7 linked regions of the Homo sapiens genome follow. The protein of the gene in region 1 purifies or fractionates together with the protein of each later gene. This does not show direct contact. Each region holds a gene or a part of one and is shown in the gene's direction. Other genes may lie near its edges. The genes, in order: DUSP4, ACTR2, QKI, MYO1C, GNAI2, ITPRID2 and PKP2.

The links.
Region 2: the proteins of DUSP4 (region 1) and ACTR2 purify together in Homo sapiens (affinity purification with mass spectrometry; one large-scale study listed by BioGRID and IntAct). This does not show direct contact.
Region 3: the proteins of DUSP4 (region 1) and QKI purify together in Homo sapiens (affinity purification with mass spectrometry, with the first as the bait; one large-scale study listed by BioGRID). This does not show direct contact.
Region 4: the proteins of DUSP4 (region 1) and MYO1C purify together in Homo sapiens (affinity purification with mass spectrometry; one large-scale study listed by BioGRID and IntAct). This does not show direct contact.
Region 5: the proteins of DUSP4 (region 1) and GNAI2 purify together in Homo sapiens (affinity purification with mass spectrometry; one large-scale study listed by BioGRID and IntAct). This does not show direct contact.
Region 6: the proteins of DUSP4 (region 1) and ITPRID2 purify together in Homo sapiens (affinity purification with mass spectrometry; one large-scale study listed by BioGRID and IntAct). This does not show direct contact.
Region 7: the proteins of DUSP4 (region 1) and PKP2 purify together in Homo sapiens (affinity purification with mass spectrometry; one large-scale study listed by BioGRID and IntAct). This does not show direct contact.

Annotation. Positions count from the first base shown.
Region 1 is NC_000008.11:29,340,200-29,344,284, reverse strand, and holds part of DUSP4 (dual specificity protein phosphatase 4), read left to right. Parts: intron 1-4,041; coding exon 4,042-4,085. UniProt on the Homo sapiens protein: Regulates mitogenic signal transduction by dephosphorylating both Thr and Tyr residues on MAP kinases ERK1 and ERK2.
Region 2 is NC_000002.12:65,247,928-65,252,012, forward strand, and holds part of ACTR2 (actin-related protein 2), read left to right. Parts: intron 1-3,099; coding exon 3,100-3,172; intron 3,173-4,085. UniProt on the Homo sapiens protein: ATP-binding component of the Arp2/3 complex, a multiprotein complex that mediates actin polymerization upon stimulation by nucleation-promoting factor (NPF).
Region 3 is NC_000006.12:163,574,841-163,578,925, forward strand, and holds the end of QKI (KH domain-containing RNA-binding protein QKI), read left to right. Parts: 3' UTR 1-3,752; downstream 3,753-4,085. UniProt on the Homo sapiens protein: RNA reader protein, which recognizes and binds specific RNAs, thereby regulating RNA metabolic processes, such as pre-mRNA splicing, circular RNA (circRNA) formation, mRNA export, mRNA stability and/or translation.
Region 4 is NC_000017.11:1,475,561-1,479,458, reverse strand, and holds part of MYO1C (unconventional myosin-Ic), read left to right. Parts: coding exon 1-28; intron 29-723; coding exon 724-843; intron 844-966; coding exon 967-1,049; intron 1,050-1,266; coding exon 1,267-1,372; intron 1,373-1,487; coding exon 1,488-1,568; intron 1,569-1,862; coding exon 1,863-1,954; intron 1,955-3,898.
Region 5 is NC_000003.12:50,252,740-50,256,653, forward strand, and holds part of GNAI2 (guanine nucleotide-binding protein G(i) subunit alpha-2), read left to right. Parts: intron 1-284; coding exon 285-445; intron 446-3,452; coding exon 3,453-3,581; intron 3,582-3,914. UniProt on the Homo sapiens protein: Guanine nucleotide-binding proteins (G proteins) are involved as modulators or transducers in various transmembrane signaling systems.
Region 6 is NC_000002.12:181,915,158-181,919,242, forward strand, and holds part of ITPRID2 (protein ITPRID2), read left to right. Parts: intron 1-58; coding exon 59-1,270; exon of another isoform or gene 1,271-1,442; coding exon of another isoform or gene 1,443-1,529; exon of another isoform or gene 1,530-1,680; coding exon of another isoform or gene 1,681-1,740; exon of another isoform or gene 1,741-1,848; intron 1,849-3,165; exon of another isoform or gene 3,166-3,313; intron 3,314-3,440; coding exon 3,441-3,518; intron 3,519-3,597; coding exon 3,598-3,725; intron 3,726-4,085.
Region 7 is NC_000012.12:32,876,065-32,880,149, reverse strand, and holds part of PKP2 (plakophilin-2), read left to right. Parts: intron 1-1,117; coding exon 1,118-1,230; intron 1,231-1,606; coding exon 1,607-2,304; intron 2,305-4,085. UniProt on the Homo sapiens protein: A component of desmosome cell-cell junctions which are required for positive regulation of cellular adhesion.

The DNA of each region.
Region 1 (4,085 bases):
TGCAGATTTTAGGCACCTGCTGCTTCAGAGCTGGCAAAACTGACACGCAAATAAGTAGATCCTGGATATTTAGAAGCAGAGGATATTGGAACTTAAAGATCATTATAATCAGAAATTCTTACATTTTGAGAGTGGGAAAAACCAGAGTTGAGGAGGGAACATACTTGTCCAAGTTCCACAAGTTGAGTTGGACTTACACCTGGATCTGTCTCCACTTCTCCTTGCACACCTGCTAGGGGCACGGGAAGGAGCCCAGCCCCTTTGTAGACAATGAGAATAAGCTTTCCCTTTCATGATTTTTTGGGATAAAACTAGGTGATCTAAATCTAGCTCTTGAAAGGGCTGTGGCTATGGTACTTGCATGGATTTGGGGATGGGTAGGAGGGACTGAGTGGAAGTCACCTTAGAATAATCTTTTTTAACCCTGCCCACAGTAAGAAACACATTTTAATTTATATTGTGACCCAGGAGAGGGATACATGCACATCTGAAGAAAAGTTCCATAAAATGATATCCTCTTTAAGGGCAGTGCATCCTCCTAATTCCTATTCTATTGTATTCCATTTTAAAAATGTGGGTCATGACTCTTTAATGACAGCCTGGATTAGGAAACCAATGGGTAGAAGCAGAGTTTGGTGAAATATCAGCAGTGCCCTATTTGGATCAGTTCTGTTTTTGCATGAAAAGTCTGTCTTCACTTGATGAAACCTGCAGGCAGTGCCCCCTGGAGAAGGGCCCACCAGGAAGGGGTGGAAGGCAGAGGTGGCATAGACTGACACCCAGAGATGACTTACTGGGGCATGGCCCTGTGGGGGGTGGACTTGAGCAGCTTCTTCCACCGATGGATAAATGCTAACTTGCATGCATCCTCCCGCATCACCTTCACTGTGTCCTCCGGGCTCCACCAGCCCAGAACATATCGTTCTCACCCATGAGTGCTGGCCTGAGTGCAGCCCAGGGCCCACCAAAAGGAACCCCCTTTAGTGTGGCATCTTGTGAAACCAGCCACAGACCCCCAAAAGCTGGCCACCACTGTCAGGGACGAGAACCTTCCAGTGTTTCTGCCCCTTGAGCGAATCTGCTTCTTCACCTTGTTCCTTTTTTTTTTTTTTTTTTTGAGATGGAGTCTCGCTCTGACGCCCAGGCTGGAATGCAGTGGCGCGATCTCGGCTCACTGCAACCTCCGCCTCCCAGGTTCACGCCATTCTCCTGCCTCAGCCTCCCGAGTAGCTGGGACTACAGACACCCGCCACCACGCCCGGCTAATTTTTTTGTATTTTTAGTAGAGACGGGGTTTCACCGTGTTAGCCAGGATGGTCTCGATCTCCTGACCTCGTGATCCACCCGCCTCGGCCTCCCAAAGTGCTGGGATTACAGGCGTGAGCCACCGCGCCCAGCTCACCTTGTTCATTTTTGCTTGTTCTTTAAAACTCCCTCAGAGGGAACTGACTTTTCTGTAATCATTTTTCTGCTGCCTTCTAATGGTGCCTTTTCCAGACAGTTGCGATGAGCCTGGGGGAGATGACGAATGGCCCTCTCAGGCCACATCTAGCCTGTTCCCCACCAAATGGGTCACTTGGGCCCTCCTTGCCCCCCACACCACTCCATGGCCAGCAGCCGGTGCCAGGTCCCTGACAAGGGTTCTGCTGAGTGGCAGCCATGGCCATGCCTGGGAGAGAAGATGGAGGTCTGGAGGTCTCCGGAAACCAAGAGACAGGTTTCCAGGAGAGCAGGCTGTCAAATGCCCAGTACCTTACCAGCATTACCCTGTCCCCGGTTCCTCTTTGGCCTTTGAGGATCTCTGCTGAGGGCATCCGAGGGCACCCCTCCATGTAGGCACCGAGAAGGGAAAACTTCATGATCTGTCTCCCTGATGCCAGGCACAGAGCCTGGCTGTCAGAACCAGTCCTCATAGGCCTTTGTGCAGGGGACTTTCATCACTTACAGACGAGGAGGAGGCTCCGAGAGGTTCAGGAGGCCCGGGCTGCACAGGTGATACATGCTCAGGGTGGGGTGCAACCTCATGGCAGAGCCTGTGCCCTTTCGGAACTTCACTCCAGTGCCCTGTTCCATACCCTCAGCAATGGAGACAACATCCTCTCAGCTGCTCTGGGCTCTTCCTGCTTCTCCAGCCCTGAGGGCCACTCTGCTCTGTGACCGTGGGGCCTGCCCTGGCACTCCTGGGCCACCCAACCATTCACTTTTGAGTGCAGGCGATAGCTTGTCTGTCTTGGTGGTGAGTTTTTGCAGGACACCACCTGTGTCTAACATGTTGTTTTAAAATGTGTTTTAATAGCTCAAATTATGTAATAGACAAAAGGATCATGTACTTAGAATTTTTTCAAATCCTAGAGAAGTATATAGAGTAACAAGTGATGGCTTGGGATACAAGTGATCAACCACTGTTAATGAATGAGTTTCCCTTCCACTTTCTCCGAAAGGGAGCATGGACTGAAGTTTCCCATCACAGAAGCCCCTGAAGGACTTCAGCTGCAGACAGATATTTCCTTCCTCTTCCCTCATCCTCTAATTACTGCATTTTGGGCAGCAGTGGTGGCAGCCGAATAAGGAAAGGGGTTTATGATGGGAGGGAGGGGGTGCTTCTGTGATGAAGTGGCTGCCGAGGCCACCAGCATGACCGAGGCTGACGGTACCAGCCCCACCAGCAGGTTTTCCATCCAGGGAGGCTGGTCACTGTGACTCAGCAGGAACAAGGGCCTGTGACCAGAGAGAGATCCATTTATATCCTGAGGGAGGGAGAGGAGGGGAATAGAGAAGCCTCCGGTCAGAGAGGAAAAAATGTACACCCTGTTTCTATAAGCCTCATGATGTGGTAGAGAACCGTTTCCTTCCTCTCAGTAGGAAGCAGTCTTTAGGGTTGGGATTTGGCGCAAGTGACTGACTCACCGTCACATGTCTGCACATTGGAAAATTTCTATCAATGGCCCTAGGGCACAGAGGTCCTATGTCACTGTCATGAAGACCGCAAAGGTAGCGACATCCAGGACTGTTGGCCAAATTGTCATTGGAGTCAGTTGAATGGGTTTGTTGGAATGGTGGTTCTCCAACGCACAGGCCCTACTGAATCAATTGAATCCATTTCTGGCCCTACAGACACTGTAAAATAAAAATAAAAGCAGGGCCATACATTGATAGCACTGTGGATTGGAAGTTGGCCGCAAAAGGAAGTCCCAGAGATCACAAGAAAGCCAGAGATAGGGCTTGAAAGGTTGTCTTTTTGGATGGCCTCCCTGTGGCCTCTCCCTGTATCCCACCTGCCTCCACCCCTCCTAGATAGGAGCACTCACCCTACCCCAGCTCAGCTGGCCATTTATCATCATCTTCTTTTTTTATTTAAAAGATCTCCCTTCTCTGGAAGATGATCCCACAGATAACCATTCCAGGGCTTACCCACTCTCAGGTCAGGAAATACTCCCTTGCCCCAAACCTGTACATAGCATGAGGGGTTTATTTAGATTTAAGCCCGTTTTCCTCTTGTTCTGGTCTCTTGGTGACGGAACAGCTATTCATGAGGACGTGCAATGGACATCTGTTCCATTGCTGAGATCCAGAAGAGTTTGTACCAGGGTCATTTTTTCCCTTCTTTCTCACATTGGAGAACCTCCCCTGAGGAAGGGCTGGAATCAGGGGTGGCAGGTGTCTCTACAGGTACTTAGTGTCCTTGGAAGCCCAGCGTGACCTTTGCTTCTCTATTTTGTCATTGTCCTGAGGAGCTACTCCACAGTCACTTCTGCACATCCCCCTGCACGTCTTCCTTTGTATGTCTACCTCTCTAACCCAAGTCTTGTCCATAAAGCTTATCCTTCCAGCTTTGCTGCAGTCCTGACGAGTGTGTCCTCTGCATCTCTGGAAACCACTCCATGGCCATTCTCTAGGTCCACAGCGCCACCTAGTGGCCAATATGGAGCACGCCAGCCCCTGCCTTCCTAGCAGTCCGCCTGAGTCTGTAGGAGTCGAGTTCTTTCTGACTTCCTGCTGGCTTAGTGACCCCATTAACCTGAGCTTCTTTCTCCTTTACAGGCGGCTATGAGAGGTTTTCCTCCGAGTACCCAGAATTCTGTTCT
Region 2 (4,085 bases), on another chromosome or scaffold:
AGTTAGCCAGGGTATATAGGAGAATGGTATTCCAGATAAAGGGAGTAGCCAGTGTAAAGGTCTTAAGTTAGGAACAAGCTTGGTATATTAAAGAATAAGCAAGGAAGCCAGTGTGGTTGAGGAGAGAGCAACAGAAGATGAGGTCGAGTAAGTAATATTGGTGCCTTGTAGGCTCTAATTAGGAATTGGGCGGCTGGAAGTGGTGGTTCAGGCCTGTAATCCCAGCACTTCTGGGAGGCCGAGGTGGGCGGATCACGAGGTCAAGAGTTCGAGACCAGCCTGACCAACATAGTGAAACGCCATCTCTACTAAAAATACAAAAATTAACTGGGCATAGTGGTGCGTGCCTGTAATCCCAGCTACTTGGGAGGCTGGGGCAGGAGAATCGCTTGAACCCAGGAGGCAGATGCTGCAGTGAGCCGAGATTACACCACTGCATTCCAGCCTGGGCGACAGGGTGAGACTCAGTCTCAAAAAGAAAAAAAGGGAATTGGGCTTTTACTGTGGGTGAAATATGGGGCTGTTACAGGAAAAGGAGATGCTCAGATTTAGATTTCTCTTGTGTTGTGAGTATCCCACAAGGAGGCAAAGATAGAAGAGTTGGAGACTTTTTCAGTCATTTAAGCAAAAGATAATGATGGTTAGGATTGAAGTAGTAGTAGTAGAGATAGTGAGAAATTACCAGATTATAGGTCTGTTTTGAAGGTAGGGCTATAAATGATACGGTTCAACAAAGAAGAGGGTAGACAGTGGTGAAAAGGCCAAGGACCAGAGAGATAGGAGGAGCCAGCAGAAGGAGATTGAAAACGTTATTGAGGCCGGGCTAGGTGGCTCCCAGCACTTTGGGAGGCCAAGGCGGGTGGATCACTTGAGACTAGGAATTTGAGACCAGCCTGGCCAACATGGCAAAACTCCGTCTCTACTAAAAACACAAAATTAGCTGGGCATAGTGGTGCACGCCTGTAATCCCAGCTACGCAGGAGGCTGAGGCAGGAGAATTGCTTGAACCCAGGAGGTGGAGGTTGCAGTGAGCTGAGATCACCCCACTGCACTCCAACCTGAGCGACAGAGCGAGACTCTGTCTCAAAAAGAAAAAAGAAAAAGAAAAAAAAAGTTAATGAAATAATGAAATAAGCAGTTACAGAGGAAAGAGAGAGCAAGAGAGCTATGATCCTCATAGTTTAAATAAGTAATTTTTCAAGGTTCTTTTATTTTTGTATATATGAAGTAGAAATTTAATAACTTCTGTAGCTTTCCAGTTACTGTTTAATGTACATATTTTGTTTACGAATATGTTTAAATGTTGATGGAAATTTTTGAAAGGGTTTAGAAGAAAATGTTGTTAGTATTTTTAAAGCCTGTATTAAAACTCAGTTTTTGTATTAAGTGTTTTGAAAATCTAAGATCATGGTTTTAAAGAATCCATATGATTTCTTATGGCTTATATTTTAATATTCTTATTTGTTTATGACTACAAATATGTCTATGACTGATAGTGTCCTACCTTAATCTCATTAACATGCTTTCACATTGGTATGTGCATATATATGATCATTCTTCCATTTTCATCCCTGTGGAGGTGGAATAAAGGATGATGGAATAAAATACTATTCAGACTATCTAATTGCTTAATTGATGAGTATGTGTTTCAGAGTTGTAGAATTTAAATTCTGTGTAATTTTCATTGTGGTCAGTTGTAAAATTTCTAAATATTTAGATATTCAGAGTGATAGGCAACCCTACCAGTCAAGGGGTGCTCAGTCAAGATCACCAAAAAAAAAATCATGCAGGATGTTCCCAGCTGACCTGGGCTACAGAGAATGAACATGTGTGTGACCAGTGAGGGCAAAAAGGAAAGAACTCCTCCTTCCAGGGTAGTTCATTTGGAGGTTGTAATTACAGTCTTGATTCAAGTAGGGACTGGGCTCAGCAGCTAAGCCATTTCTGTATCTTCCAGCAATCAGGAATTAACCATTGATTTTTGTCTTTGCCGTGGCATTTTACTGGGTTTTTTATTTTTTCTTTCTTTCTTTCTTTTAATTTTTAAGCTGCTCAGGGTAGACAGAGCTACACTCTTGGCCCAGATTGAGGGAGGGGGTACGAGGCTCTGTAAAGCAATTTCTATATTTTGTCTTCGAATTAAAAGATATTTCCCGGCCGGGTGCGGTGGCTCACGCCTGTAATCCCAGCACTTTGGGAGGCCGAGGCAGGCGGATCATGAGGTCAGGAGATGGAGACCATCCTGGCTAACACGGTGAAACCCTGTCTCTACTAAAAATACTAAAAATTAGCCGGGTGTGGTGGTGTACGCCTGTAGTCCCAGCTACTCGGGAGGCTGAGGCAGGAGAATGGCGTGAACCAGGGAGGTGGAGGTTGCAGTGAGCTGAGATGGCACCACTGCACTCCAGCCTGGGCGACAGAGCAAGACTCCGTCTCAAAAAAAGAAAAAAAAAAGATATTTCCCTGGCTGGATGTGGTGGCTGACACCTGTAATCCCAGCACTTTGGGAGGCCGAGGTGGGTGGATCATGAGGTCAGGAGTTCGAGACTAGCCTGGCCAACATAGTGAAACCCTGTCTGTACTAAAAATACAAAAATTAGCCAGGCATGGTGGTGCATGCCTGTAGTCCCAGCTACTCAGGAGGCTGAGGCAGGAGAATCAGTTGAACCCTGGAGGTGGAGGTTGCAGTGAGCCAAGATTGCGCCACTGCACTCCAGCTTGGGCAACAGAGTGAGACTTCATCTCAAAAAAAAAAAAAAAAAAAAAGAATTTCCCTTAAGGGATATCAATTAAGAAAGTCTTGTTCAATACAGAGAGCTTTCTTTCACACTAATTAGTCATTAACTAATACACTAAGAAATCTTTGCTTTGTCACGCTTATGAAATGCTTGGGGACTTAGAAATCTGTCTTCAGATTTGGAGCTCTGTGGCAGCAGGACTTCAATAAGAAATAAGAGGAGCTGATGAAAATGGAAGACTATTTCAGGTCCATTTGATTCTATTTTGGGCAATTAATTCACTCTGTGACCATGAGGAAAACATTTATTTATTATGTAATTTTCTAAATACCAGTTTTTTTCTTTCTGTCTGCATTTACAGGTAATGTTTGAAACTTACCAGTTTTCCGGTGTATATGTAGCCATCCAGGCAGTTCTGACTTTGTACGCTCAAGGTAGGTTAAGCTTAACTGTTAGAAAAAACACTTCATCAAACATTTATTATGTATGTTTTATGTCAGAGAATTTGGTTTCTCAATAAGTTATAAGCCCCAGAAAACTACATTATTTATATACCACACTTTGAAATATTTTCAGTTTTTAAAATTTGTGAAATAAGATTTTATATACATTTTTATTTGCTAAATATGTATTTAAGGTAAAAAAAAAAGGCTTAAAGACTTATTTTTTAAAAAATAGGATATTCTCTCTTTTAAGCTATTTAAATTTTTTTTGAGACAGATTTTCGCTTTTGTTGCCCAGGCCGGAGTGCAATAGTGCAATCTTGGCTTACCACAACCTCCACCTCCTGGGTTCAAGTGATTTTCCTGCCTCAGCCTCCCAAGTATTTGGGATTACAGGCATGTGCCACCACACCTGGCTAATTTTGTATTTTTAGTAGAGATGGGGTTTCTCCATATTGGTCAGGCTGGTCTCAAACTCCTGACCTCAGGTAGTCCGCCCGCCTCAGCCTCCTGAAGTGCTGGGATTACAGGCATGAGTCACCGTGCCTGGCATAGCTATTTTAATTTTTTATGCATGGAATTTGTCCCCAGAATTGGCTTGAGTTAAAAAAAATACGCAGAGATTCAAAAAGGTAGCATAAAATCATGCCTGTCAAATATATAGTAGATTAAAAAGGAGAAGGTAAACATTTGGGAGTGCATTTCTAACTTTTGAGGTGGGTTTAATGGAGGGGACTACTTATATATTCTCTTGATATTGCCATTAGCAACTGCCTCCCTCTTTATTGGAAATAAAATATTGGCCACGTTGGGAGAGCTCTTTTTTTTTTTTATGGTCTTATAAATTCAACAGGAACTTACTGAGAATGTCTGGGCCTGTCAGATATGTGCCAAGGAGTCTTTT
Region 3 (4,085 bases), on another chromosome or scaffold:
TTATTTAGAGTTCTAAAATTGAGGGCTGAAATGAATGACATGTAATAGAAGACAAAACTGTACCAATACGCTGTTAACCAATCAGACTGTCCAGGTATTCTCATTTCATAAATATGTATACACACATATAAATACACAGAGTAGTGTTAGCTGATGTGAGTGATAACAGCGAATCACCATTGAGATGGTCATTTGGATCATGTAAACAAACCGTGTCATGTCTCTGATGGGAGCGGTGGGTAGTGTACTGTTAGGTGGACAGGTCTTTTAACATGCTACTATTTGTAAAAGTTTCCGTTGCCATAACAGTTCATGTAGTAGTCTGTGAAAATTCGAAGCTGTCTGTCAAGCTGCTAATATACAAGTTGTCATGGTACCATGTAACTTAAATTGATGAATTTCTATGCAATTTACTATTCTCTGAAGCCTATGAATGCAGCCTCATCTCATTTTCAGTTAAGGGTACTTTATGTATAATTATGTCATTGCTGCCTTTTATGTAGGAAATGTAAAAAAGTTTTAAAAGGCGAAAATAACATTACAGATTTCATTTTTATACAGGTTACAATATTAAACATGAAACTACCAAATTCCAAGAATAGTAAAATTCTAGAGTCAGTTGATTGATTGAAACTATTTGACAAAACAGTTGAAAGCTGAGCTTTCAGTCAAGAAGTTGGTGAAATTAATGTCCTTAAACTTTTCCTTTAGGCAAAATGTCAGGGAAAACTTAACATGAAAGTAGTTACTCCCATACGCACCAGTGCAGTAGCTCCAGGTGTAAGAGGTCACGAAGGCACCCTGCCCATAAAACCAGGATGTGCATACGTACACACAATCGGTGTCTGGTTATGGTTTTCTAAACACTACATAAGGATCTGAATTTTTTAGTGTGCCAAAAGCAAACGATAGGTTTAAATGAAATTGCTCACTACCAAATCAAGACTCTTCATATATATACGTGTGTGTATATATATATGTCATAACACTTTCACGTGTGACAGCCTAAGGTTTCTTTAGTTTTAGGATGGGGTGGGGTGGGAGTGGTTTTGCATGTTTGACCAGGATGTGATGCCTGTCTTTATTCCTTGATAAGAAGTAGCTGTTACAGCATTTCAAGCAAATTATTTTAGGTAGAATAGAACTTACTGCCAAATGATTATTTATTTAGCAAAAATTATTCTCCAACTTTTCGAATTCACAATTTTTCTAAGTGCATAGAGTAGTTTTTTACATTGTCACGAATTCCTTAATACCTTTATTTAAAATGGAAAAAATATGGACAATATTTTAGAAATATGTGCTACACATCTAATTTTATCTGTAGTTTAAGTGATCTAAATTGAGATGCCTTTGATATGAAGAGATTTACCAACATTATATGCACTCGTGCCTTCAATGTGGAATCAAACTGGTTAACCTCAGCACAGTCCTCTCGTTTCTGTGTTTCTGCTGCACTAATTGCCAGGGGGTGGGGGAGAAGGCGAATGAATTAATTCATAGTAGAAGGAGGCGATAGGTGCAGCAAAGGGCAGCCACAGTGTTGATTCCACATTATAATGTTGTTGCCTCTTCTTGGCAAAAGACACCACATTGTGGGAAGATCTCAGCTTCCAGGGTAAAAGTTAATTTATAACTTAAAAGTGCTATTAAGTTTTTATTACCAAATATATCTTTTATGGTTTATATTGTAGTGGTATGTATGAAACATTTAAAATTTTACTGTGGAAATTGTGTATATATATATATATAGTCGAAATAGGTGTTCACAGGTCACATGTGAACGGAGAACTGCATGACCGTACATGAAATGCAATAAACCAACTGGAAAAAGTGCATGTGCTTCATCCTCTCAAGCCAACTGCAGCTGGAAAGTGCTGCTTATCCTCCACCCCCAGAAAATGCATGTATCAATATGAGAATAAAGAACGCACACTTTCAATTTTATTGAGGCTTTCAACACTATTTAAAAGAAAATGTAAGAATTTGACATTCTGGAGTTATTATAACATTAGAAAATGAGCATAACATTCACTCTGATTTTAGCCATTAAGGGAGATTAGTAAACAGACTGCTACAGTGTTCCATAGTTGGACTGTGCATCCAAAACATTTTTTTATCTTTAATAAATGGTACAGTTTTTATGTAGTTTTCGAATGTAAGAAGAAAGGAATGCTGACCAAAACTTGATTTCATCAGCTTCATGAAAAGGACTAGTGTCATTAACCTGTTGAACAGAATTGGTTTATTAAAAAAATCATTTCCAGTAGTGTGAAACCTTTACGAGTCTTTAACATCTAAATGTTATGACTCCTTGTACCTTAAGTTTTCCAGTCTTTCTTATTTATATCATCTCCAAGTACCTCTGGCTCCTTTCCTCTTGCTCACCGGAACCTTAGTTTTCCTCAACAGAATGCTTTGTTAAAGTAGCCCACAGTTGCAGGATCCATAGCACCGTCGTGCAGACTAGCAGCCCAAAGGTGTGTTTGGTTTGGCTTATACGGTGTTTTGCTTTTTAAACTACTTGCCATAATTTAAAAGTGGCAACACTAGACTTAAAAAAAAAAAAGTCTGATTGCCCATATTAGATTTTTTTTTTAATTCTTCACAAAATCTGCTCTTCCTGAAAGATCAAAGTGTCTAGAAAGCCCAAACATGTATTCTTAACATAGTAGGCACCAGCTGAAACTGAGTAATTAAACGGTCCCCTGAAGCCAAGTATTCCCTGGTTAGTCGCCACCCCACCACTCCTTCCTGTCTCTAGTGTCACACTTGGGCTGTTGATTTTCTTACTCTTCTCTTGCTTTAATCCTTCCCCCCGGCTCTCTGGCTCCTGTGGATATCTGTGCTTGTTTCCTGGTCCAGGATGGTGATCTGACTTTCAAACCAGCTTCTCAAAAGGGGTGACATAAAATCAGTTTTGATGTTTTTCCTCCTGAAAAATCAGATGAATATTTTAGTCACTGTTACTCATGCACATTGTGTTCTTATGTTTACAGAAGTGCTTAAGTGAATGGAAGCACTAGACATTTGGATTTCCTTCCTAACGTAATTTTTAATGATTACCCCTTTTATACAGTAATTTGTGGTCTTTAGAAAGCAGTTAAACTAATTGACCATCTAATAGTTGTACTATACATATGTCTAAAATAATAGTCATGGTAAGTTTGGCATCATATCTTCCCCAAAAAATGTTTATTAAAATTAGATTATTCCAGTTTAATGCTATTTTGTGAACTGTATACCCTCTGAAAGCGCTTATTTTTACATGCTACACAACAGTTCCAATTTTAAGGAGTGTCTCCTAAAATTGGGATGAAAATCTACTGTAGTCTGTTTTAAAGTATGCTATACTATGTTCATTGGTTACTTAACTGGATATTAATATAAAGGTTATTACAAGAAAAATGATGAAGAGCAAAAGGAGAAGAAAATATTTGCAAGTGAATCCACAATTCTTGCAGAACTATTTGAGTTGATACTAAAGATTTTATGTTCACTCCTTTACCTTAGAACTGTCAAGCTTGGGAATGAGGAAAGTGCCTTGGCTGTGCTTGAAACCTGAATTTTAGTGCTTCCCTTATTACATTCATTGTTTTCAATGATTGATTTATAAAATTAAGACATACTGGTAGTACAAGTTGAAAGTTGGTTTGAATACATTTTAATTAAATGATAATATGTTAATATGCTTTTGTTCATTGCTTTCTCACTGAGGTAAAACAGCATTAAAAAGTTGTCCAGAATTTAAACTGACTCTAGATTTCTAGATTCCTAGGTGGCGGGAAAATGTAAAACTTTAAAGCTCATGAGCGGAACGCAATGCAAGTCCTGAAACTAAGAGTTAAATGTGAGTCTCAGGGAAAAAAGCTAGATTAGCAAATCAAACATACATATGCCTCATCCAGAACATCATTCAGGCATCAGTTCGGGGGCTACTAGCAGTAAAGTTGGTTTTAAATGAAATAAAGTGGAAAAGTTTGATATCACTTCCAGAAGTGGTCTGTCATCAGTAAGTATTGGTGTTGAGTCTAAAATGAATTAGAAACCTCCCGTTACTCTTAGGATTAAAGCAACCCGGTATG
Region 4 (3,898 bases), on another chromosome or scaffold:
CAGGAAGATCATCGCCAAGGGGGAGGAGGTGAGGCCGGGCCCTTGCCCTCGGGTGTGGAGGGGCAGCTGTTCCAAGGCAGCCCCTACTCCCATCACTCCCCTTCGCCTGGTTCCCTCAGCAATGCTGGAGGGATGGAAGGAAGGCTGCTCAGAGAAGCAGAGTGAGAGCCGAGCGCCGTGGCTCACGCCTGTAACCCCAGCACTTGGGGAGGCTGAGGTGGGCAGGTCACCTGAGGTCAGGAGTTCGAGACCATCTTGGCCAACATGGTGAAACCCCATCTACTAAGAATACAAAAATTAGCCGGGCATGGTGGCGGGCGCCTGTAATCCCAGCTACTCGGGAGGCTGAGGCAGGAGAATCGCTTGAACCCGGGAGGTGGAGGTTGCAGTGAGCCGAGATCACGGCAACAGAGCTAGACTCTGTCTCAAAAAAAAGAAGCAGCACAGTGAGCTGGCCAGGGTCACATAGGAAGAGAGTAACAGTCCGGCTAGAACCAGACTCCCACCTCGGGAAGGAGGCCTCCTGTCCCTCTACCACCTTCCCTCTGGGGTGGCCACCTGTCCTCCCTGAGGTCCCACTACCAGCACCCCTCCCCATACTGCAGGCTTGCTGGAGCTGGGAGTGCAGAGTGGTGGCGGCTTCCTGGTCTGCCTGAGCCTGGGAGCAGGTGGGATGCACAGGCTCTGTGGCATTCATCTCCTTGTCTCACGCTGCGTCCACAGCTCCTGAGCCCGCTGAACCTGGAGCAGGCCGCGTACGCACGAGACGCCCTCGCCAAGGCTGTGTACAGCCGCACTTTTACCTGGCTCGTCGGGAAGATCAACAGGTCGCTGGCCTCCAAGGTGAGGGCTCGGTCCACACTGCTCCCAAGGCAGAAGGGAGGGCCGTCGGCGAGGCGGGGGGTGCTGCAGGGTGGGGCTGGCACGCGCAGGGGGCCCACGCCTTCGGTTGAATGACTGCCCTAGGACGTGGAGAGCCCCAGCTGGCGGAGCACCACGGTTCTCGGGCTCCTGGATATTTATGGCTTTGAAGTGTTTCAGCATAACAGGTCGGTGCCATCTTTCCCCCGTCTCTCCTCCCGGTCTCCTGTCCTGCTCCCTCTCTTCTGTCCTCCAGCCTCTCATTCCTGCCCTGTGACTCCCCAGCCAGCCGGGGACTGTCTCTGTGTTTCTCACCTCCTGTGCTCAGGGGCGTCGTCCAGCTTTTCCCCTCTCCTGGTCCTGTGTCCCCACTGAGCCACTGTGGGCTCTTCTCCTTCCTTACAGCTTTGAGCAGTTCTGCATCAATTACTGCAACGAGAAGCTGCAGCAGCTCTTCATCGAGCTCACGCTCAAGTCGGAGCAGGAGGAGTACGAGGCAGAGGGCATCGCGGTGTGTGCTAGCCTGGGGGCACTCTCCGTGGGCCACGGGGAGCCTGGGTATCGGGGCCCCTGGGAGAGGGTGCCAGGACCCCACGGTGATCCCTTCCTTCCCTTCTGCCCCTCAGTGGGAGCCCGTCCAGTATTTCAACAACAAAATCATCTGTGATCTGGTGGAGGAGAAGTTTAAGGGCATCATCTCGATTTTGGTGAGTCCTCTGCGCCTCCAAGGCCTGGTGCTGGAGGCTGGGTGGGAGGATGTCCCCCTTCTCCGTTCTCTCCAGGCTGGTCCACGGAGGGCCAGAGTTTGGGGCTGAGTAGAGACAGGGCAGAGCTGTGAATGGAGGATGGAGGGAGGTGCCGCCCCAGTTGGAAGCTCTCTGTGGAGACTCCCTGTGATCTGCCCCTCCCCTGTGTCTGTGCCTCCCAGCACGGTGACCCCAATCCTCTGTGCGCTCTGACCTGTCCCCCATACGTCCTTCCCCCTGTGCCACACCCCCCAGGATGAGGAGTGTCTGCGCCCCGGGGAGGCCACAGACCTGACCTTCCTGGAGAAGCTGGAGGATACTGTCAAGCACCATCCACACTTCCTGACGTGAGTGGGGCTGCGGGGCTGCTGGGGGCAAGGGCTCACTTGCAGCAGAGCCTGCGGAGTGCAGGAGTCCCTCCGCCATCACAAAACACCAGCCACAAGGAGGTGACCAGGGACGGTGCTGAGTTAAGGACCCCTCACATGTGTCCAGAAACTAAGAAGCTTAGCCAGGCATGCTGACACGCCTGGAGTCCCATCTATGCAGAAGGCTGGGGCAAGAGCATCACTTGAGCCCTGGAGTTTTGAGGTTGCAGTGAGCTAGGATCAACCCACTGCACTCCAGCCTGGGTGACAAGAGCGAGACTCCGTCTCAAAAAAAAAAAAAAAGGGAAAAAAATAAATAATGAATTTTTTAAAAAAGAGAAAGAAGGCCAGGTGCAGTGGCTCACGCCTGTAATCCTAGCACTTTGGGAGGCTGAGGCGGGTGGATCACCTTAGGTTAGGAGTTCAAAACGAGCCTGGGCAACATGGTGAAACCCAGTCTCTACTAAAAATGCAAAAATTCGCTGGGTGTGGTGGCAGGTGCCTATAATCCCAGCTACTCGGGAGGCTGAGGCGGGAGAATCGCTCGAACCCGGGAGGTGCAGGTTGCAGTGAGCCGAGATCGCACCACTGCCCTCCAGCCTGAGCGACAGAGTGAGACTTCAACCCCAAAAAAAAAAACAAAAAACAAGACACTAGTAGCCTGGCTTCCTCCTTCTTCTTGTTTGAGAATGAAACTTGCTAAGATTTTTCATCTTCCTTGTTTGGAAATTGATTTTTATTGAAGGAATCCTCTGAAGTGGGGAGAGGTAGAAACAGGAACAAGCGCCTCTGTCCAGCGCGGTCTGATGCATGCTGTGCATGTCGTCGCTTCACCTGCAGCTGCTCCTTGAGGGGTTCTTGGTGTTTTCTCACTGAGACTCCAAGAGGCGAAGTCATTTCCCCAAAATTAGCTCTCATCTGGGTTGCCGAGCTGGGGTCAGTGCCAGGGCTGTTGAATGCCAAAGCCATGAGTATTTTTTGCATAATAATATATTGAAAATTTGTTTCTGGATGGGCGTGGTGGCTCACGCCTGTCATCCCGACACTGTGGGAGGCCTAGGTGGGCAGAGATCACCTGAGGTCAGGAATTCAAGACCAGCCTGGCCAACATGGTGAAACCCTATCTCTATTAAAACTACAAAAATTAGTCAGGCGTGGTAGTGGGCACCTATAATTCCAGCTACTTGGGAGCTAGGAGAATTGCTTGAACCTGGGGGGCGGAGCTTGCAGTGAGCTGAGATGGTGCCACTGCACTCCAGCCTGGATGACAGAGTGAGACTCCGTCTCAAAAAAAAAAAAAAGACTTGTTTCTAGGAGTCTCTCTGAATCTATTCGGGTTTAGGGGCTGCCTGATTCATTAAATAATAAATACTAAAAACTTGTTCCTGATTATAAAAATAATATTGCTTATTACAGCAAAGTTGGAATGTGCGCAAAAGCCACCTGTGATCCCGTCGCCCAAAGGCCATGGCTGTTAACTGTGTGAGGCATTTCCCTCCTGCCTTTTTCTATGCATTTTTTTTCGTAGTCGAGAACTTGTGTATAAGGCTCAGGGTAAATATCCTGCACATTTTCCCGTATCATCAAACAACATTTTCCTCAGAACACTTCCTGGAGCGGTTCTGACCCACAGATACTCCCCTCTCTCACCCAGCCCTTCGGGGCCCCTGGCCAGCCTCCCAGGTTTCTGCTGGAATCACAAGGCTGCCACAAACATCTCCGTGCCTTCAATCTTTGTCCGTGTCTCTGGTTAGCTGCTTGAAATAGTTCTTAAAAGCAAATGGGTGAAAGGGTATAAACACGCCTAAGACTTAAGTGCTCTCTTGGGGCAGCAGATTCCATTCTGAAAAGTAGTGCGCAGCTCACCACCCCTTCTGAGCAGAGCCCGCAGCGGCCGAAGCAACGAGAGTTTCCCTCCCTGCA
Region 5 (3,914 bases), on another chromosome or scaffold:
TGTAATCCCAGCTACTTGGGAGGCTGAAGCAGGAGAATTGCTTGAACCCGGGAGGCAGAGGATGCAGTGAGCCAAGATCGCCCCATTGCACTCTAGCCTTGGTGACAGAGCTAGACTCCGTCACAGAAAAAAGTAAACAACAACAACAAAAAGGTTTTAGGGCAAGTCTCATCCTAGGGAATCCAAGAATACCCTAGCCTGGGCCCCATTCCAGAGGTCTCCCTGCCTCTGGCAGAGTGGGGGTACATTCCTTCAACTGCCTGACCACCCGCCACTGTGCCCAGGACGACGCCAGGCAGCTATTTGCACTGTCCTGCACCGCCGAGGAGCAAGGCGTGCTCCCTGATGACCTGTCCGGCGTCATCCGGAGGCTCTGGGCTGACCATGGTGTGCAGGCCTGCTTTGGCCGCTCAAGGGAATACCAGCTCAACGACTCAGCTGCCTAGTGAGTGCTCTGAGGGGCTGGGCAGGGCAGGGCAGGGGCTGGGGGAGGACTAAAGGCTGGACCGGAGGGCCTGAGAACCCCCAGAAGGACACTGCTGGTCTTTGCTTATGAAACCGATGACTGTTAACCAAGGCCTTCCTGTTTTTTGGTTTGGGGGGTGGGTGGGTGTCACGTTACTGAAAGGCCAGGAGGAATGACAGGCAGGTGGCTTATACAGTACATCTCTTCCAGGCCAGTTGAGTCTGATCTGTCTTGACAGTCTTCTAAAGAACATTTGCGGCCGGGCGTGGTGGCTCACGCCTGTAATCCCAGCACTTTGGGAGGCTGAGACAGGCGGGTCGTGAGATCAGGAGATCGAGACCATCCTGGCTAACACGGTGAAACCCCGTCTCTACTAAAAATACAAAAAATTAGCCGGGCGTGGTGGAGGGCGCCTGTAGTCCCAGCTACTCAGGAGGCTGAGGCAGGAGAATGGCGTGAACCTGGGAGGTGGAGCTTGCAGTGAGCGGAGATTGCGCCACTGCACTCTAGCTTGGGTGACAGAGCAAGACTCAGAACATTTGCTGCCACCTGTTCTGTGCCAGGCTTCAAGGACACAGTGATGAGTGGAGCAAAGTCCCCATGCAGTGACAATTTAGGGTGTTAGTGAAAAGGTAGAGGTGGAGTTGGCCCAGAGACAGGATTGCTGAGCTCTGAAGGAGAGTCAGCCAGGGGAGGAGTGGATGAGGGGATTCCAGGCAGGGGCATAGCATGTGCAGCATCTCGGGGTGGTGGGGAGCTGGCTGTGCTTGAACATAGGCTGTGGAGGCTGGCTGGAGGGGGCCACAGGGGAGGAAGTTATCTGGGAGGTGACAGGTGTGTGTGTAGGTCAGAGCCCCTGGACCTCAGCTGTGACCCTCGCTGGCCCTAGGCTGAGGAATTACAAGGGGTCCCAGGAATCCCAGAGGCATGACAAGCCTGCACCCTTTCCACAGTTCTGAACTCCTTCCCTGTGGTATCTGTCATGTACTTGGACTGGTGCAGGGTGCTGAGGACCCCACGGGGAACAGGATAGACAGGCTAATAGCCATTGAGGATGGCTGCAGGGGACATCCACAGGCTTTGGATGGTGTCACCAGATAGGCTGCTGTCCCTGTACTCTAGCCTTCCCCTATCTCTGCTTAAGCCAGTCCCCTCTGACTGGAACACCCTTTTGCTCCTATTGTTCATCCAATCCTGAGCCTACCCATAGGGTGGATTTCAGCAAGGGTGGGTGGGAGGAGGAGGAGGGTCTTGCCTGGCTGTGATTCCTGAGCCCTGTCCAAGCCACATGAACAGCCTCCTCCTACCCTTCTTACATGGCCTGAATGCTCTTGTGAATATGTACCCCCTACAGGAGCTGTGGAGTCACAGCCAAATGCTGTGGGGGCCCCCAGGCCTCACCACTGCCCCTCCCTGAGATCTCTGGCCCAGCCACCAGCGAGCTTGGGGTCAGAGCAGCAGGGACCTTGGTGCCCATGATACTCAAAGGAAGCAGGAATAGAGCCACCTCCAGGCCACCTCCTGCTTCTCCATCATCCTCTTTCTCTATTCTCCAGACATTAGGCACCCACTGTGTGCCCAGCACAGTTTTGGGAGTGAATACAGGCCCTGTTCTCCCAGTCAGGTTTAAGCCTTGATAGCTCCCCCTGGGAATGGGTTGCGGATTGGAACACCACAGGAAGCAGGGCTCCTTCAGCCCCTCTTCGCAGCAACCCTCCAAGTGTGCAGCGAGTCAGGGGGTCCCTGGGGCGAACCCACCTGTTGGGGAAAAGGGAGAGGCTGGTGTGGAATGCACCATGGTACCTCCACATTGAGGACTCTGGCAGTAGGGGGCGGGGCATGGTATGCGGGTCACAGCACATGCGTCATCCTTCCCCATGGCCCTTCCTGTTTTTCTGTTTTGTCCCTGCTACTCTGAGATCATTTCCCTCTGGCCTGGTTTGGCCTGGGTGCTGGTGGGAGCCAAGGGCCAGCCCCAGCAGCCTTGCCCCAGGAATGAAAAGTCAGCTCTGGGCAGCAGCCTGGAGGCCTGGGACCAGCCTCCAGGGCATGGCAGGGATATTGAGGCAGGCAGCAGAGGCAGGCCCTGCAGGGGTAGCCTTGATACTAATTAAGGGAACTGGTAATGAGGAGCCCCTGGGACCCCTGCCAAGCAGGTGTCTGTGCCCTCCCCCTGAGGAACCCAGATTTCATTGGGCGCTGGGCAAAGAGCCCACTGGACCTGGCAGGCCCCAACCTGTCCAGCACCACATCGAGGGACCGCACCCGGCTGCTCTGCGGCTAATGCCGTAATTGCGCCCATTAGCATCCTGAATCCTTCACCGAAGGACTAATTTGCCTCCTCCCACCCTCTTTGCCTATAGCTCCAACATCCTGGATCCTGTCCGAGGCAGGTCTGGCTCAGACCCTGGGTGCTGGAGCTTGGCTGGCTAGCTGTCCACAGAGCTGCACCTCCTCCCATTCCCATTCTACAGGTGGGAGGCCGGGGGCTCTGAGTTCAGGTTTCTTCATTTGAGCAATGAGGTAATGCAGGCAGGGGTTAAAGAAACAAGGGCTGTGCCTAGGCCAGGCGCAGTGGCTCACGCCTGTAATCCCAGCACTCTGGGAGGCCGAGGTGGGCGGATCACCTGAGGTTGAGAGGTCAAGACCATCCTGGCCAACATGGTGAAACCCCGTCTCTACTAAAAATACAAAAATTAGCTGGGCGGCAGGCGCCTGTAGTCCCAGCTACTCAGGAGGCTGAGGCAGGAGAATCGCTTGAACCTGGCAGGCAGAGGTTGCAGTGAGCCAAGATCATGCCACTGCACTCCAGCCTGGCAACAGAGTAACACTCTGTCTCAAAAAAAAAAAAAAAAAAAAAAAAAAAAAGCAAGGGCTGTGCTTGAGAAATGGCATGGGAGGGAAGGGGCCTCTTGCAGCTGGCCCAGGGTCCAGCTAAGGAAGCCCCATGCTGGCCCCCACTGACCCTCCCACCCCCCATCCCCAGCTACCTGAACGACCTGGAGCGTATTGCACAGAGTGACTACATCCCCACACAGCAAGATGTGCTACGGACCCGCGTAAAGACCACGGGGATCGTGGAGACACACTTCACCTTCAAGGACCTACACTTCAAGTGAGCGAGCATGTGGACAGGTGGGAGGGGCAGGACCTGCCAGCCTCTGGGGTAGCAGAGGCAGGGGCTGGTCCAGGATCCCCCAGCCCCACTGAGGTTTTACAAGGCTCATGTGTTCTGGGCAAGCACATCCTCACCACCTAGTGAACCAGCAGTCAGGATCCACGCCACCTCTGCCAGCTGCTCACAGCCTCTGCTGCTCCTGCCTGATGTGGCTGCAGCCTGCCTGCTGTCCAAGCTCCTGGCCCAGAACCAGGGGTGAAGTGGGCAAGTGTGGATGATTCCAGAAGGTAGCTGCCCTACTCTGGGCAGGCCTCTGTCCTCAGTCAGCCA
Region 6 (4,085 bases), on another chromosome or scaffold:
TTGTTAGTGACTCTTCTTACATATATTCTTCATCTTTCCACCTATTTTCTTTTCACAGGTTCAGGAGTCCTTGCAGGCTATGGGGAGTAGTGCTGATAGTTGTGACAGTGAGACAACAGTTACGTCACTTGGTGAAGACCTTGCCACACCAACAGCACAAGACCAGCCTTATTTTAATGAATCAGAGGAGGAGTCTCTTGTCCCTCTTCAGAAGGGACTAGAGAAGGCAGCAGCAGTTGCAGACAAAAGAAAATCAGGTAGCCAGGATTTCCCTCAGTGCAACACCATTGAGAATACAGGAACTAAACAGTCCACCTGTAGTCCAGGGGATCATATCATTGAAATTACTGAAGTGGAAGAGGATTTGTTTCCAGCAGAGACAGTAGAGCTACTGAGGGAAGCAAGTGCTGAAAGTGATGTGGGTAAAAGCAGTGAAAGTGAATTTACTCAGTATACCACACACCATATTCTGAAATCATTGGCTTCTATTGAAGCTAAATGCAGTGATATGAGCTCTGAAAATACAACTGGGCCTCCCTCTTCCATGGACAGAGTTAATACAGCTTTGCAAAGAGCTCAAATGAAGGTTTGCAGTCTGTCTAATCAAAGGATGGGGCGTAGCCTGCTAAAATCAAAAGATTTGTTAAAACAAAGGTACTTATTTGCAAAAGCTGGCTATCCTCTAAGAAGGTCTCAGTCTTTACCAACCACCTTATTGAGCCCAGTAAGGGTTGTGTCCTCTGTCAATGTTCGATTATCTCCAGGAAAAGAGACCAGATGCAGCCCACCTTCCTTCACCTATAAGTACACACCTGAAGAGGAGCAGGAATTGGAAAAGCGGGTGATGGAACATGATGGTCAGTCTTTAGTTAAATCGACCATTTTCATCTCTCCATCATCTGTGAAGAAAGAAGAAGCCCCCCAGAGTGAGGCGCCGCGGGTGGAGGAATGCCATCATGGAAGGACTCCTACCTGTTCACGGCTTGCTCCACCACCAATGTCTCAGTCTACCTGTTCCCTTCATTCCATCCACTCTGAGTGGCAAGAAAGGCCCCTGTGTGAGCACACAAGAACTCTGAGCACTCACAGTGTTCCCAACATATCAGGGGCTACTTGTAGTGCCTTCGCTTCCCCTTTCGGGTGTCCTTACTCACATAGACATGCCACCTACCCTTACCGAGTGTGCTCTGTGAATCCTCCTTCAGCCATAGAAATGCAGTTGCGAAGAGTATTACATGATATTAGAAACTCACTGCAGAATCTTTCACAGGTATGAGAAAAAGTATGTTATCATTAGCTTTTTTCTTTTACTGCTCTGAGCACTTTTTAATTCACAGAGAAGCTAAGGCACATCAAGTATGAACTACCTCAGCTTTATTTTCTGACATGTCTAAACTTAATCTGCATCTGCCTTCGTTTTCTATCTTCCCTCCTGTTTCAAGGGAGAAGCTGTAACTAACCCTGATCAAAGTCGATTTCTCTGCTCACAAGTCTGTCTCCTTTCCAAGAGGAGAGATTTTTCTCGTTAAGTATCCTCCCATTTTTAGTCTATCATCCACTGTCTTTGTTTTAGTCTAGAATCTTTTGTCATTTCTATTATTAAAAAATCTTCCCTCTTAAAGTTCTTTCTCTCTTTCTCTCTGCTATTTGAACATGTTGACTACCTTTTCCTTTTCCAAGTTTTCTCCCTGTTGGCTTCTGTGGCACCACGTTCTCCTGGTTCTGCTCGTAGCTCTCTGACTAAGCTTTCCCCTTCACCTACTGACCCTCGATGCTGTGCACAGAGTTAGTCTACTTCCACTGGACTCAAAGACTGGAACTACTCCAGACCAGAAAATAACAAATCAGGTAAAGTGTGAATTTGATTTAAAATGCTCTGTATGTCTTGTCACTTTTAAAGTCATTCTCAGATTTGTTAGTAGACTGGAAATAATTTTCCCAAAAAAATTTTGAAAATAAGTACGTTGTCTTCAGTTTTGCCTTTTACATTTTCTTGAACATTCTCTCTGAATGAATCATGTTTAGACAATTGAGGGATTGAAGAAAATGACAATGTAATATAGTCATGAGAGCATTCAACAAAGAGTCAGGAGGCCTAGAATGAATGTAATAGACCTCTTATCATGACATAGTAGACAGGGAGCCACTTGGAAAGTAAAAATCAAAGGTGTAACTTCTCAAGTTATAATAAGATATACCTCCTCTTAACTGTAAGTTTTATCCTCATGACAATTGTCCCCTAACAGTTTTCTGTTTAAACAGAATGTGGGTGTTTCTTATTCCTCCTTACAAAATATAGTTCTGTCTGTGATGGAACTTGCAGCTGTGATTATGTCAAGCTGGGGATTTCCAGGACCCTGTCCACCAGTACCGTGGTGCATCTTTCTAGGCCACCTAGTTCTTCTGCTCCAGCTGTGGTCTCTTTCTCCTGGATATCCCAGCAATAACTCAGCTAATACATCTCCCCATGCCTACCCCACCCTACACTAGTGGACAGGTGCTTTCTATGATGTGGTCTCTGACTATCTCTCCAGCCTCATTCCTTAGCTGTAGGATTGTGCACAGGTCTCTAAACAGTTGTGTGTTCTTAGGTATCTGCACATGGCTGATTTTGTGTTTTGTTTTTTTAAAATAAAAAGATGAAGTTTCTGTTTCTCGCCCACGTGGAGTGCTGGAGACAGTGGTGTAATCATGGCTCCCTGCAGTCTTGAACTCCTGGGCTCAAGTGATCCTCCTGCCTTGGCCTCCCAAAGTACTGGGACTATAAGCCACTTTTTTTTAACCGAGATCACCCAGTCTTTGCCTTTCTTTGCATAATCAAGCCCTATTTACTGTTAAGGCTCAGTTCAAGTAGTGTTACCACTTTTGGGAAAGTTCACGTAATCTGAATTTTTCTGTGTTCATCATAGCACTCCTTCCACAGTATTAGAATTTTTTTAAAATTTCCTTTATTTTTCTTTACACTGTGAGAACACCTGAAGGCTGGGAATACCTTTTATGTTTTTATCTCACTGCCTAAAATAGTGGCATATAGGAAATGCTAAGATGTCTGAGAAAGACGACAATGATTGCTTGCTCTCCAGCAAAGTTAATAATCACTATAATCTCATGATGATATTTGCAATGGCTTCTACATTTTTGCGTTTTGATTTTGTTTTTTTTTAGTTTCGCAAGAGGGAAGTCCTGAAAGAAATAGATGTGAACTATGTTCCTTCGCCTCCTCCTCCCACGTAGATTGACTTATACCTGGAACAGCTAGCAGTACTAGGTGTCATTGGGAACTGATTTCTTTTTTCCTGCTTACAATATGAAGGTTTTTTGGATCCTTTTGTCTTAAAGAGAAAAATATATAGGCCCCAAATTCTGCCTTTTAACCCCTTAAGTGATTTGGAAGTATTCACTTTAACATTGGTTTTAATCCTACTTTTACTTTTTTGAAGTACCCTATGATGAGAGGACCTGATCCTGCTGCTGCTCCATATAGTACTCAGAAATCATCTGTTCTACCTCTTTATGAAGTAAGTTCTTTCTTACATCTTTGTGTTCCAAAATAATTTGTAGAATTTAGAAGTGTAATTTTGTTATATTGCATTCTAGAATACTTTTCAGGAGCTCCAGGTAATGAGGCGGAGCCTGAATTTGTTTAGAACACAAATGATGGATTTAGAATTGGCAATGCTGCGTCAGCAAACCATGGTTTATCATCATATGACTGAGGAGGAGAGGTAAAAGTTCATTTTGTCTTAGCACACCTCAAAAAGCTTTTCATTCAAAGTCTTCTCAACTTATATTTTTTAAAATTAGGTTTTGATTCTACTGCTGTGTACCTTGTATCTGTTTTGTGAACCAGTGTAGATAAGATTAGTCATAGATAGTGTTTTACTAAGTAAACTTGTATGCCTTCAATATCCTAAGGGTAGTGGTAACCTGCTTTCCCGTGTTTGAGATATTTGTGAGAGGATAGGGGAAGAAAGACTAATGTCCTTGTGGATACACCTATTGTAGTTGATATTGTACTAATTTCTAGAACCTGAGATTTCCATGCCTTCTGTTAGCATATAGTAGTTGTTGAAAGATTTGTGATT
Region 7 (4,085 bases), on another chromosome or scaffold:
ATTACAGGTGTGAGCCACCACGCCCGGCCTATCCTGTTGTTTATACAAGCTGTCTTATCTAGTAGTGCTGAGTCACCATTATATTTATTGCCTACACCTGCTTATTACAAGAAGCTTCCGAATTCCTGCCTTGGGAACAGAGTTCTGTGACTCGGGAAACTGAATTTTATAGTCTCGACCAGCTAAACCAGACAATGAGTCCCAAATTTTTCAGCACTATAACAACCAAACATTTTTAGATTTTTGTGAATTTCCTCTCCCTTCTTTTTCTTTTTTTAAATTCAACTTTCATTTTGAAAACTTTTTTTTTTTTTTTTTGAGACAGAGTTTCACTCTTGTTGCTCAGGCTGTAGTGCAATGGCGCAATCTCAGCTTCACTGCAACCTCCACCTCCTGGGTTCAAGCGATTCTCCTGCCACAGCCTCCCGAATAGTTGGGATTACAGGTGCCTGCCACCACGCACAGCTAATTTTTTGTAGTTTTAGTAGAGAGGGGCTTTCACCATGTTGGCCAGGCTGCTCTTGAATGCCTGACCTCGGGTGATCCACCCACCTCTGCCTCTCAAAGTTCTGGGATTACAGGTGTAAGCCACCGTGCCCAGCCAAAACTTTCTTTTTGAGACAGAGTTTCACTTTTGTTGCCCAGGCTGGAGTGCAATTGTGTGATCTTGGCTCACTGCAACCTCTGTCTCCCGAGTTCAAGTGATTCTCCTGCCTCAGCCTCCTGAGTAGCTGGGATTACAGATGCCCGCCACTATGCCCAGCTAATTTTTGTATGTTTAGTAGAGATGGGTTTCGCCATGTTGGCCAGGCTGGTCTTGAACTCCTGACCTCAGGTGATCCACCTGCCTCTGCCTCCCAGAGTGCTGGGATAAGAGGCGTGCGCCACCACACCCAGCTGAAAAACTTTTGTAGAGAATGTTTTGATAACCTTTGATCACTTGCCATATCCCAGGGTGGTGTGAAACTAGCATTTAAAAACATTAACGTACGTTTAATACTTGTTCTTGGCCTTCATTACTTAAATTTAAAAGTTTAATACATCATTGTTATACAGTCTGTAAATATTAATTAGCCTACTTGTATTCTGAGTTATTTTAATATTTGCTTGATTGCAGGAAATCTTCACCGAACCAGCAGTGTTCCTGAGTATGTCTACAACCTACACTTGGTTGAAAATGATTTTGTTGGAGGCCGTTCCCCTGTTCCTAAAACCTATGACATGCTAAAGGTAGGATATCAAAGAATGTAACCCTAGTGATCAGATTACTACCATGAAAATATTTTCAAACTTCCTAAGATTATTTTTGAGTGTTTACTTTTCCCAAGTATTATCATTTCCTAAATGAGTTTTGAGAAAATTGATATTTATGAGGATACCATGGAAAACTAGGGATGTGAAACATTCTTACATCCTAGTGCAAATAAATATGACTCAAGTCAACCAAGTCTTATTTTCAAAAAGCCTTTACCCAGAAAGGGGCAAACTTCTCGTCATCTGATTCAGAGAAACGGACATGTTGGGTAATAGTCCCAGAGTAATTAGTCCTCAGCAAAGTTGAAATTTGATTTATGCCCCCTTTAAACTTTATTTCTCTCATGTGCAGGCTGGCACAACTGCCACTTATGAAGGTCGCTGGGGAAGAGGAACAGCACAGTACAGCTCCCAGAAGTCCGTGGAAGAAAGGTCCTTGAGGCATCCTCTGAGGAGACTGGAGATTTCTCCTGACAGCAGCCCGGAGAGGGCTCACTACACGCACAGCGATTACCAGTACAGCCAGAGAAGCCAGGCTGGGCACACCCTGCACCACCAAGAAAGCAGGCGGGCCGCCCTCCTAGTGCCACCGAGATATGCTCGTTCCGAGATCGTGGGGGTCAGCCGTGCTGGCACCACAAGCAGGCAGCGCCACTTTGACACATACCACAGACAGTACCAGCATGGCTCTGTTAGCGACACCGTTTTTGACAGCATCCCTGCCAACCCGGCCCTGCTCACGTACCCCAGGCCAGGGACCAGCCGCAGCATGGGCAACCTCTTGGAGAAGGAGAACTACCTGACGGCAGGGCTCACTGTCGGGCAGGTCAGGCCGCTGGTGCCCCTGCAGCCCGTCACTCAGAACAGGGCTTCCAGGTCCTCCTGGCATCAGAGCTCCTTCCACAGCACCCGCACGCTGAGGGAAGCTGGGCCCAGTGTCGCCGTGGATTCCAGCGGGAGGAGAGCGCACTTGACTGTCGGCCAGGCGGCCGCAGGGGGAAGTGGGAATCTGCTCACTGAGAGAAGCACTTTCACTGACTCCCAGCTGGGGTAAGTCCCCTCCTGACTCTGCAGTTCAGTCATTGCCAGCACATTCTGTTCCCACAGCCCTGACAGCATGAGCTGGCACTTCTGGGGCTTGAGAGAAGGGCTTCCAGAGATAAGTGATTAAAATAATGACTTTTCAGGCAGCTGCCTAATTGACAGATCAGCCTATTTACCTCAGGGACAGGGGCCAAGCTACCTGCTCACATGGCAGCTTTGTATGGAAATGTGACATTTAGTCCATCTGTTCCAGATTAGATGCTGGCTGAAGGGACCCTACCCCTCAGCCATATGAAAATCTGCTCTAAACTCCAAAGTAGGCCAAGAATTGGAGAATTGCATGCGTATTTTCTTCATCATCCCATGAAATAAAAGGAAAAAATGCTTATTCTTAGCACGAATGCCATTTGGATAACTATGACTGTAAAAAGAGCTAAGGAAAGATGGCTGACTTCTAGATGTCTTTTTTCTTCCTTTGGTACTTGGTACCTTTTAGATTTCTAGTGTCAGTGATTTGAAGGGGTATTCTTTTGGCAGTATTAAATTATTAAAATAACTGAATTTTTAAGTCATTCCTTTCCATTCCTATTTACTTTATAGCTTGACTAATTTAGTGTTTGGAACTTAACCCTTATTCAAGTTTAATGCCTGATCACAAATTTTATAAACTGTGCACGTTACTAAGAGAAAGATTGAGAAATGGATGGCTGATTAGATCAGTAACTCCTGCAATAATGATCTAACATCATTAGGCTAAAACATTAGATATGTTATTGTCATTTGATTGCTAAAGTTGTCTAATGATAGTTGTTACCTCTAAACATCCCTTCAAGTGAAATTGTACAGCATGCTCACTGACCAGGTAGCATCATTAATAAACTACTTCTCAAAATGATGAGGGCTAATCTAATCTTAACACAGGAAATATTTTTTATGATGTAAAATTCACCATGAGATTTCTAACATTTCTTATAGTAAGCAGACCTTAGGCAATATGAGCATACTTACAAAGAGGAAAAATAAGCCGGGAGCAGTGGCCCAGGCCTGTAATCCCAGCACTTTGGGATGCCCAGGCGAGCGAATCACTTGAGTTTAGGAGTTCAAGACCAGCCTGGGCAACATGATGAAACCCCATATCTACGAGCAATACAAATATTAGCTGGGTGTGGTTGTGTGCACGTGTGGTCCTAACTACTCGAGAGGCTGAGGCGGGAGGATTACTTGAGCCCAGGAGATGGAGGTTGCAGTGAGCCAAGATTTGTGCCACTGCACTCCAGCCTGGGGAACACAGTGAGACCTTGTCTCAAAAAAAAAAAGAGAAAGTGTATCAGGTCATTGTTTATGGAGGAAAAAGCTGATAAAGGCTTTTAAACAGGTAATTCAAAATTTATGGAATGCCTACCATAGCCTAGGATTTGTGATAGCCACAGTTTTAGCAAAATGATTTTAACAGTAACAAAATTATTATCTGACATCCTCCAACAACTGGCATTCTCTCCCTCCATCTCTGTGTCCCTTGCTTCTTGAACCACCCTGTCACTTCCCAGTCTCTCGTCAACCCACTGCAATATGATTTCAGTCCCCTCCATTCCACCTAAACAGTCTCCTGACAAATGTAGCAATGATGGCCTTATCTGCTACATCCTAAGCAGACACTATATTGAGTAATATAAGCACTGCTTATATTACTCAACCTGTGGGTGGTGTTTGAGACACCATGAAATTCTCTCATCCCTTGGTTTTCAGGGCACCAGCTTCCCCTGGTTTTCCACTCACCTCTCCAGCCA